Regions from separate parts of the Homo sapiens genome. Here region 1 is linked to region 2. A link means that fine-mapping ties the variant in region 2 to the expression of a gene that starts in the linked region. Tissue or cell type: sun-exposed skin. Region 2 holds a variant in brackets; the other region holds the start of a gene. All regions are shown on one strand. Distances are between the middles of the regions. Region 1 holds the start of KRABD3 (KRAB domain containing 3). Region 2 overlaps KRABD3 (KRAB domain containing 3).

What was found.
Region 1: it holds the start of KRABD3, and the variant in region 2 is fine-mapped to the expression of KRABD3 in sun-exposed skin (GTEx, PIP above 0.99). The same link has a PIP of 0.9 or more in unexposed skin.

Annotation. Positions count from the first base shown.
Region 1 is chr7:149,712,315-149,717,676 of GRCh38, forward strand. It overlaps KRABD3 (KRAB domain containing 3), which reads left to right and starts at 2,637. Exons shown (of 17, transcript NM_001290187.2): 1 at 2,637-2,752. The coding sequence starts at 2,741. RefSeq lists silencers at 1,164-1,458, 2,285-2,724 and enhancers at 1,790-2,289, 2,927-3,559.
Region 2 is chr7:149,732,208-149,737,569 of GRCh38, forward strand. KRABD3 (KRAB domain containing 3) reads left to right here. Exons shown (of 17, transcript NM_001290187.2): 17 at 999-2,368. The coding sequence ends at 1,840. Among named protein-coding and RNA genes, the nearest start is that of KRABD3, 20 kb to the left of the region's middle. RefSeq lists an enhancer at 2,854-3,770. The variant T/C (reference allele first, on the strand shown) is at 2,986.

The DNA.
Region 1 (5,362 bases), 20 kb before region 2:
TTTAGATTCATTTGGGAAAAGTGCCGACTAGTTCACCAAAAGTCAATTCACAGAATGACCAGATAGCCAAAAGCCAAATATGGTAAAAGCTAAACCACTGAATATCAACTTGCTAAACAACCAATCTGAATTATTGAAATTTTTTTTTTTTTTTTTTGAGACAGGGTCTTGCTCTGTCACCCAGGCTGGAGTGCTGTGGTGTGATCTTGGCTCACTGCAACCCCCCTCTGCCTCCTGGGCTCAAGAGATTCTCCCACCTCAGCCTTCCAAGCAGCTGGGACTACAGGGGTACACCACTGCACCTGGCTAATTTTTGCATTTTTTGTAGAGATGGGGTTTCATCATGTTGCCTAGGCTGGTTTGGAACTCCCAGGCCCAAGCAATTCACCAGCCTTGGCCTCCCAAAGTGCTGGGATTACAGGTGTGAGCCACCGTGCCTGGCCCCAGCCAAGGAATTTTTAAAGATGTGTTTCAGCTCCACTCCTGCCTTTGTCTGTGTCCAGAGCCATCCAATAAACCTGGTTCAGGACAGGTCTTCACAACTATTTTTTAACGCACACACACGGGCTGAGGTAAATACAGGTCTACAGGGTCAAAGGCGCAACTAAAATTTGGGGGATAGGGGTGCCAGGAAGTGTCTCCATAATTTAAATAATTGGCCATGCAGCAAATTTCATGTTGGTGAACTGCTTTTAGCGACTGATGGTCCACAAATGGGGCAGGAAGCCTAGCCAGGAAGTGGACGTTTGAGTCAAAGAGGTGCCAAGAATCTGCACAGCTTAAAACAAAGGTGCATCTTACTTGGATAGAGATTTCTTTCTACAGGTGTTTAAGTTTAAGGCAGGGGTCCCCAGTCCCTGGGCTATGGACCAGTACCAGTCCTGGCCTGTTAGGAGCTGGGCAGTGCAGCAGGAGGTGAGCTGCGGGCAAGCCAGGGAAAGCTTTATCTGTAGTTACAGCCACTCCCCCTTGCTCGCATTACCCCTGAGCTCTGCCTCCTGTCAGATCTGCAGGTGCTGGATTCTCATAGGAGCCAGAACCCTGTTGTGAATGCGGGATCCAGGTTGCGGGCTCCTTAGGAGAATCTAATGCCTGGTGATCTGAGTTGGAACAGTTTCATCCCAAAACAACCCCCCTCCCAGTCCATGCAAAAATTCCCTTCCACAAAACCGGGCTCTGGCCCAAAAGGTTGGGGACCCCTGATTTAGGGGGTTTTAACGTTTAGGGATCCCGGGCCGGAGGGTGGGCGGTGGAGAGGAGCTGGGAGCAGGAACACATTACTGTAAGGAGCCCGCCTCACCTCGGCACGGAGGTGGGACCCGGCCTAAAGCCCAGGAGGCGACTTACCCTGAGGGCTGTGGCCTGTAGGGCTCTTGAAAAGTTGGACTTTTAAGTTTTCCCTTTCCGCGAGGTGGGGCCTTGTGATATCTTCAAATCCTTGTTCAGCAGGCTGCGCACACGCCGGTCCTGTGTCTAAGGTGTCTCGGGTATGACCGAGGGGGCTTTGCCCGAGTGGGCGTGCGCCTTTCCTCGGAGGCCGGGACGAGGGGTTGTCGGCATCGTACCCGAGTCCGTGATCATGGCCGGCGCGGCTGCAAGGGCCAGCCCCGGGCGACTGGGCGAGGAATTCCCTTTCCTTCCCTCCGATATTGCCCAGGCAGAGCGCTGTCTGGGCCGCAAGGTCTGGACGGGGCTTCCAAACTCAGAGCAGAGTCTCCTCTGCGTGGGACCACAGCCTCCCCTTCCCCTCCAAGCTTCTGTCTGGCACAGCAGGCTTAGCCCCGCAGGCCCCCTTCCAGCAGCCTTCTATAAAAATGACGGGGTCCTTCTCCAGACAGGAAAACCAGGCTCGCTGCGCCTCGCCCGCACCCCCGGAGCGCTCTCGCAGCGCCCGCCCAGACCAGGCCTTCGAACTCGTGAAGCGCAGGGGGAGGCAGAGGAGAGTGGGCCGCGCTTCCTTCCCGCATCACACGTTTATTTGAGGCCTACTATGTGCCAGGAACAACTGGGGTTACCACCCCAGCAAACAGGCACGCAAAATGTGACACGAAGGTAGGTCATGGCTGCGGCGAGCGGGGGCGCGGGCGAAAGACGTGAGGATGTACGGGGGCCTGGCAGCTGCTCTGTCCCACCCACGCCCGGCCGGACCCTCGACCCCTTTCACTCCAGGTCGGGTTTCCCCGACCGCGGCCTCTGGGAAAGATGGGTCCCTCTTCATCCCCACCATCAGCCCCTGGCACATGGGACGCGCTGAGTGGTGGCTGCGGGAATGAATGAGTGATAAGCGGCGCGTACCCGCGGGCTTGCACGCCCACAGCCGCCCCGGCTGGTCTCGGCGCGCAACCTCTACCCGCAGCTGGGGGCGGGGACGAGGGGAGGGGGCGGGGACGAGGCCCGAGCCAGGTCCGCCCCGCCCTGTCTCCGCCCCCCGCTTCCGAGCCGGCGCCGCGGCGCCTTCTGGGAAGTGTAGTCCGCGTCTGCGCCGGCCGGCCGGGCCGCCGAAGCCGGGGGCTCCGGGCGGAAACGGCACCACCCACCAAGGGATGCGAGGCGCTCGGGGCGGGCTCAACGAGGCCGGGGGCGGGCCCGGGCGCGCCCACCCCCGCCCCTCCCCCTCGGCCCAGGCCCCCGGCCCCGCCTTCTCCTGCGCGGACCTGGGCCGCCGCCGACGAGGGTCGCGTGCGCCCGCGCCAGGGCCCGCGCCGGAAACCGAGGAGTGGCGGGGAGGCTGAGCCCGGGGATGGCGCGCCAGGTAAGGCAGGCGGACGCGCGGACCCCTCGGCGCAGTGCGGCCCCGAAGGCGGTAGGGCGAGAAAGAGCTGGGACCCCCCCGCAACTTCGGGATCGGCTGGGTGAGGCTGGGCAGGCCTGATGCTCAGGGGTTCGTGCCGGGAAGTTCAGGTCCTCGGACAACCTCTCTCCAGCTCTCCGCCGCCGGTACCCACGGCCCAGTCTCCACCTGGGGAAACCCCCTTGGCGTGGCTTGTTTCGTTACAAGTTATCCTGGTAGAGTGGGCATGAAGGCCTCGGAGGCAGTGAGTAAATCTCATACTTCTGTTCTTGGTGGAATCCTGGATCCCGGGGGCTGGGGACGTGGAAATGGGGAGAAACAAAGATAGAACAAACCCCAAGTTTTGTCTTGGGAAGCCTGCAGGTAAGGCGTTTAGATCTGAGAACTGGAGGGAGAGCCCCAGGCCGTGACAGCCTGGGCACCGTTTGGGCTAGGTTGTGTGTGGGCTGTGACGATGCTGGGAAACTCTGGTGCTGATATCAGTGAGGTATCAGGTATCTGGTGCTGATACCAGCAACTGCTCCACGTTCTTCTGGATGGGCACCTGGAGCCAGTTCTGCAACCGTGGTGGCTCCTGAGCTTTGGCCAGTCCGAGGCAGCCATGGATGGGGGGCAGCGTGTGACTAGGCAGAGCAAACACTGTGCCAGGCCCTTGGCGTCATTAGTGCCCCCAAGCATTTGGGGAGAAGGGAGAGGCTAGGCAAATTGGATGTTGTTGGGCAGGGACAGTCAAGTGTCCTTTTCAGGTCTGGCTGCACAGTTAAGTAGCCTAGGGACACCCTGGTTCAGACATGCCCATGGCCCCATCCTAAGGCCTCCTCATACCACAGTTTCCTGTTCTGTAAAGTGAGGAGTTTGGGCCATTGACCTTTCAGATCTGATGAGGGGAATATCCTCACACTACGTAGCTTCATGGAGAAGGTGGCCAGGAGTGACCTTGGGGAGTGGTAGGTCACTGTAAGGTGGAGAGGAGCAGGGAGGGTTCCCAGAAGCCCAGGGCAATGTGAGCACAGCCTCCAGGTTGAGAGGTCCTGTGGCAGGGTCTGATCAGGGAGCCCGAGCCTGAGGCCCACTGGGAGAGCAGGTCTAGGTTGGGAAGGACTGTGAGAGAGGGGCAGGTCCAGCAGGCACTGAAGCTGCAGTTTTTGTGCTGGGCTAGTGACACGGTGGAAGGGTGATGTTAGGAGGACCAGTGTGCAGCTATGAGCTAGGAGGCTGCCCAGTTACAAGAGTCCTGGGTCAGCCCAGAAAGCTTTTCTCCATTGGTTGGGGGAAGGAGGTGAAGTGGGGCCCGAGGAGGAAGGCCGGTGGTGTGTGGGCAGAGCCAGCCAGTGGTGGCCTTCCTCCTCCCGAAGATGAGTTTTGTAGCCCAGGTGTTTGCACACTCACACTTGCTCACTCCCTCACACACAAAACCCTCACTCTTTGCTTTTTCTGGGGAGAGGGAGGCCACTGGCAGAAGCGCCTACCCTGGCCACAGTCAGTTCCCATTCTCATTTTCTAAGAATTTTATCACAAAACAGTTTGTCTTGAGGCTGAGATGGTGAGAGGCCTGGAAAGCATCTCTTACAGATTCCTGGAAGAGCTGGGATATATTTAGTCTGGAGCGAGAGAGACACCGGTGGTCAGGAGCAGTATGTGGAAGAGCTCAGCTGGCAGGCTCAGACCTGCAAGCGGGCATTAGGCAGACAGGTCTGGCTGCAGTATTACTAATCATAGCACTTAATATTCATAGTCCCCGCATTTGTTCTAGGCACTATTCCTGTATTTGTTTTGTCTTCACAATACCTCTATGAGGTAGGTTGTTATGATCCCAGTATTACAGATGAGTTCACTGAGGCCCAAATAGGTTAGGTTTGGCTGAGGTCTCATAACTAGTATGAAACAAGGCAGGGATTGGAATTCTGGCAGCCTGGCTCCTGAGGCTAGGCCCCAGTCACCGTGCTCTGCCCCGGTCTCTGGGTCCGGAACCTCTTAATGGCCACATCAGGTCAGCAGTGGTACCAGTGCAACCAACATAGCTGGTATCATGTTCTTACCTAGAGCTCAGACCTGCCTTGCCAGCTCTGTGTTGAGCCATCAGAATGTCATGTGGGAACCCTCTGCCTGCCATGAACCAAAATTCCAGACTCCCAGAAGGAAAGCAGGGGTGTGGCACACACCACGTCATTTGCTCAGCCTAGGCACCTTGAGCCACTCCCATCATTTAGGGAATGGTGGGAAGCCTCCTGACACCTAAATACCTGGAAGCCAGCCTGAGCCCTCCTGGCAAGCAGGCCTTCCTAAGGACAGCGGTCTAGGGCTGCTCTGCACGCTCTTCTGCATAGACCCTGATGTTGGCTACATTTTCTCTGTTCCAAGATGCTAGGAAGAAATGTAAATAACTCTTTGAGAGAAGTTTTGGAGGGTGTCTGAGACTGTTCCTGAGAGGGAGTGACCATACCTGGGCCAGAGCCACAGAGGTTTGCTCAGGGAGAGTCTGCACATCGAGGCAGGAGGCAAAGGCTGCAGCATCTCACTGCCCATCAGCCTCTGGGCCTCCGGGCCTCAGGCAGGCAGTCACGGGAGGGG
Region 2 (5,362 bases):
GCAGGTTCTCTTACTGGCTCAGGGTGTTGGCTTCTGTCCAGGCGCCACCACTTTGCTGTGAGCTCTGAGCTGCCTGGGGCCACCGAGCCTTGCCTGTCCTCTGTAGAAGTCCTAGCTGGGGTCTCCAGGCCGAGATCCTTATTGATGAACTTGACCAAACAGCGGTTGGGTCCTTTAGCTACTCCAGTCTTCACTTTTTCCTCGGTTTAAAGCCCTGGAGGTGCCGAAAAGAGCAGGGCAGAGCCACAGCTGGGGGCCCAGAGAAACAGGGAAGAAACCATCTCTGCGCCCGGCCTGGGGCTGAACAGGTTAGGAATGGCAGGTGCCTGGCCAAGCCTTTCCTGTGGTTTGCCCAGGGTTGGGACCAATTCCAAGGGAATTTAGGGCGAAGGATTAGGTGATCTTTTTTTAAAAAAAACAAAAAGCTTATGACTCCTATGAATCTGTAACTTCTCAATAGGGAGAGTAAAAGCAGAAGGGGGTGGGAACCCTTGTGGTTTGCCTGTAACGAAGAGCACTGAGTTCTGGAGTGGCCCCAGGGTCACCCCACAAAAAATGCGCAGAAGGCCCTTGGCTTGCCTGGCCCTCCTGGCCCATCTCCTGGTGCTCCCACGGCCTTGGCCTCATGCTGTCTCGGGGGCTCTGGACCCTTCTCACTGACTCCTAGGGCAGGGTGCCATTTGGTCTCATCAACAACACAAAGACCCACCGATTCCTAGAAGGTGGGAAGACCGCAGTTTAGGAAAGCCTGGTTACCACGGAAACCCAACCTGTGGTTGATCCTGCCCATCAGTTTGGGGAACAGCCAGGAGACATAGCCAGTTTTCATGCCATAAGCATTGGCATCTGCGTTCTCAGGCCTCACCCACCTTCCTTCCTTTCTGGAAGCTGGGCCTTGGAGGAGGCAGAGTACTGAGCGCCCTTGGTTCATGGGACCTCTGGGGAGAGAAAGGTCCTTACAAACCAGGAACTCTGACCGGTCCTTGCTCTGGTTTTAGCCAAGACCCATGAGAGGCTGCTCCCCCAGGGCCCGCCTGAGCTGCCCAGTGAGTCTCCCCCTCCGGAGCTGCCCCCTCCGGAAGCTGCGCCTCCTGTGTTGCCAGCCTCCTCCCTGCAGCCGCCATGCCACTGTGGGAAGCCCCTGCAGCAGGAGCTGCACAGCCTCGGTGCTGCCCTTGCGGAGAAGCTGGATCGGCTCGCCACAGCGCTGGCAGGCCTGGCTCAGGAAGTGGCCACCATGAGGACCCAGGTGAATCGGCTGGGGAGGCGCCCCCAAGGCCCTGGGCCAATGGGCCAAGCTTCCTGGATGTGGACCCTCCCACGGGGACCTCGCTGGGCTCATGGCCCTGGTCACAGACATCTGCCCTACTGGAGGCAGAAGGGACCCACGAGGCCTAAACCAAAGATCCTGCGTGGCCAGGGAGAGAGCTGCAGGGCTGGTGACCTGCAAGGACTCTCCAGAGGGACCGCTCGCCGGGCACGTCCGCTGCCTCCAGACGCTCCCCCGGCAGAACCTCCTGGGCTCCACTGCAGCTCTTCCCAGCAGCTGCTGTCCTCTACACCCAGCTGCCATGCTGCGCCGCCTGCACACCCCCTCCTCGCACATACCGGGGGCCACCAGAGCCCCCTTCCCCCTTTAGTGCCTGCTGCCTTACCCCTGCAGGGAGCCTCTCCTCCTGCAGCCAGTGCAGATGCAGACGTGCCGACCTCAGGAGTGGCACCAGACGGGATCCCAGAGCGGCCCAAGGAGCCGAGCAGCCTGCTGGGAGGAGTGCAGAGGGCCCTCCAGGAAGAACTGTGGGGTGGGGAGCACAGGGACCCGAGATGGGGGGCGCATTGATGGCATTCCTCTTCTCCACATCTGCTCGTTCTTGCCGAGGGTGCAGTGGTGGCGTGGAAGCCCTGTCACCCCACCCCAGGCCACCCTCTCCCAGAGGACGCCATCTCCCTTACTGTTGCTGGGAGCCTCGCCCTTTGTCCCAACTGGGTAGAGCCCCCAGGTGCTGTTTGCTCAGGAGGCTGCTGTGGGGGTGCCTTCCTCAGCCTCTGGCCCTCTTGGCTCAGATTCAATCAAATGTTGCTTCCCTCTCCTGTCTTTCCCACTGGAGCCGCCCAAGCTTGTAGGTGGGTGGTGTGCATAGGCCACGTGTGCCCCACATATGCAGGGGGTGCCCCACACAGCTAGAGCGGCCAGGAGAGCGCCTCCTAACCACCAGCCGTTCCTGATCTCAGGAGCCTTGAAGGGCTGGGCTCTTGCCTTCCTGGAGTAAATATTGGCACAGATTTCATTTGAGAGAACTCAGCCCCCTGGTCTAAGCTGGACTTACCTCTGTGGATTCTGAAATTAAAGAAGTGAGTTGCTAAGGAAGGCCCTGACTCCTATAGAAGGGAGGTCCATGTGGGCCCACGCTGGGGCGGGGCTGGTTGTGCCACCAGCACGCTGCCTCGTCTCCCAGACATCCTCGAGAACATTCAGGAGTGTGCCAGGAAGGGTGGGGCAATTCCCACAGGACTCCTGGGGCACACTCTGAGTCCCCTGGGGCTGCCTCACAGAGGAACCCTGCCTGGGCAGCTTCAACAGCAGCACATATTGTCTCTGTCCTGGAGGCCAGAAGTCTACAATCCAGGTGTCAGGTTCAGTTCCTGCTTTGGGCTGGGAGGGAGGATCGGTCCCGGACCTCTCCCCTTGACCTGTAGATGGCTGTCTTCCTGTTCAGATGGTGTTTTCTACACAGCTGTCTCCAGATTTCCCCTTCATATCAGGGCAGCAGTTGTATGGGGTTATGACCCACCCTAATGACTTCATTTTAACCTGATTACCTCTCTAAACACCCCCTCTCCAAGTGAGGTCACATTTGGAGGTACTGGAGGTTAGGCCTTCACCATACACATTTGGGGAGGGGCACAGTTCAGCCTGTAACACACCAAACGGGCTGGGCCAGTCTTCCTGGTTTTGTCTTGGGAAAAGACATGACCAGGTATCAC[T/C]AGCCCACTTCTGTCCTGGTTACCGGAATGTGCCTGCTCCCAGCCCGCTCAGCTGGCGCTTGGCAATGCGTTGGAACCAGCCTGCCTGTCATTCCCTTGCATCATCTTCCCAAGAGGCAGAATGCAACCTGTGTGCCCCCAAATCCCTTATTTGACCTGAGGTGGTTTCAGGACCTGTATGTGCACCTGTTGACTGGCAGGGCCAGCCTGGTGTGGACTGGCAGGGCCAGCCTGGTGTGGACTGGCACACTTGGCCCTGTCCTCAGGTCCCTGAGGAGCCTGGGACACCAGCACTGTGGCCTGGGGCAATGCTGGCTGCCCACCATGACTACAGGAGCAGTGCCTTGTGGCTGCAGCGCCCAGTGTGTCCCTCAAGTCAGGGTCACTGGGGACACACTCGGGGCCTAAGTGCCCTGCAGCTGAGCTTGGGAGCTGAAGCCCTTGCTCTTTGCCACCCTGTAGAAGCAGCAGGGCAAGGACACCTGTCAGAGGGGAATGCCCGCAACAGACTGAACATCACAAAGGGATGGGAAGATGCTTTCAGGACTAGAGTGAGCCCCGAGGTGACTGTCTGGAAACAGATCCTAAGACCATACAAGTAGGATGTTTGTTGAAATACGGAGGCTGTTCGCTCACAGCCGTGCTTGCACAGAATCAGGAAGGGAAAGTTTCTAGGTTGCTCCTGCCTGAGGAGCTCTCCTTCTAATAAGCAGGGAGCAGTGCCGGGCACGTTTCAGAGCCACGGCAAGGGGTGGGACACAGTTTCAGAGGGGGGTTGAGAAGCGAAACTGCCCCTGCCCTGACTCTGGCTGTGAGGAGAGGACTCTTGCCCACCCCTGCTGCAGCTGGTGCAGTCCCATCGTGCCTGCCTGTCCTCCCATTCTCCTTTCCCTTCTAAGCAGGGGTCACTGGGCTGTCGACTCAATGGGAGGGGGGGTCACCTTACACTTCTGTGTGGCACATTAAGGTGGTTTTGCTTTGCTGGCTTCCGAAACAGCCACCACGCAAACCCTAGTTGACAGGCACGACTGAACAAATGAGCATGGTGGCTGTAAGTGACTGTCACAGTTAGGCAGCCTTCAACCAGCAGAGCTAGGAAGAGAGCTCGAGCCCTCACCAGTGCCGCCAGCACTCGGCGCATCCTCACCCTGGGCACAGATGCCCCCTCCCAGCCTTTGCCTGCTGGGACAGACCAGGGTATTCAGGACTGAGCCTGGTCTAGGTGGTCCAGACCCAGTTGGACCATATAATAAGTTTAAAGTTGTTTTAAGAATGTGGATTCTAAGTAATAAGTGGTAAGAAGTTCCATGGTCTGCAGCTGCGTTCCTCCTGCAGAAGCAGTTCCCTAGGTCTAGGTCTCCAGGACCTGTCCACAGTCACTGAAACGCCTTCTAGAATTGATCTAGTGGAAAATCTAGATGCAGTTTAGGTCTTTGGCACTGTGCCCATCTCCTTTAAGAACTGTGCAGTGTGGCTTGGAAGAGGAAATGTGGTCCCTTTGATGGGAGAAACTGAAGGACCTTTTTGAACTCAAAGGAGCTCCAGGGTTTGGAATTGGGGGCAGAGAAGGCTCCAGGCTGCTCATTCCATCCTGGGTGAGCCGAACGGGTCCTGGCTGATCTGAGTGCGACCTTCCCAGTCTGCCAGCCAGAGTCCCCCAGCAGGCAGGAACATGTGAAGGTTCCGCTTCAAAATATGAATGAATGGGCTCCTCGTGCCCCTATTATTTTCTGGCCACCCCCAGGGGTCCTGATGGAAGGGAGGCTGGCCTGCGGGGTGCAAGAACCACGATTCACTGCTCCCCGCTGAAGGTGCTTGGTCAAGAGCAGCAGGCATGCTGTTAACCTTTGTGCGGGTTTGTGTTTTGGATGTGGCTCCTATGCACAACCTATGGATTTTATCTCATAAACCATCTTGACAGATTTTGCTCGTCAACTGGGAGCCCTTAATCCATTTAAATGTAATTGACTGACTGATTTATTGAGGCTTTAACAGACTTTCTTACTTTGTGCTTTTTGTTTGTCCCACCTCTTCCGAGGGGGCTTCTCTTCCCTGCCTTATTTTGTATTAACACTGTTGTGGGTTAAAAAAAAAATCCATTTTTTCCTCTGCTGGCCTCAAAATGTAAAGAACTAAAAGGAGAAACACCCAAATTCACAATCATATTTGGGAGGTTTTAGCATATCTTTCTCTGAAAATGATGGAACAAATTGGGAGGGATGTAGAAGATTCGAACAAACTCCTTAACAAAATTGGCCTGATTGAGGCCCGTATAGGACAGTACACCATGGGGCCGGGTGCGGTGGCTCACACATGTAATCCCAGCACTTTGGGAGGCCGAGGCGGATGGATCACTTGAGGCCAGGAGTTCCAGACC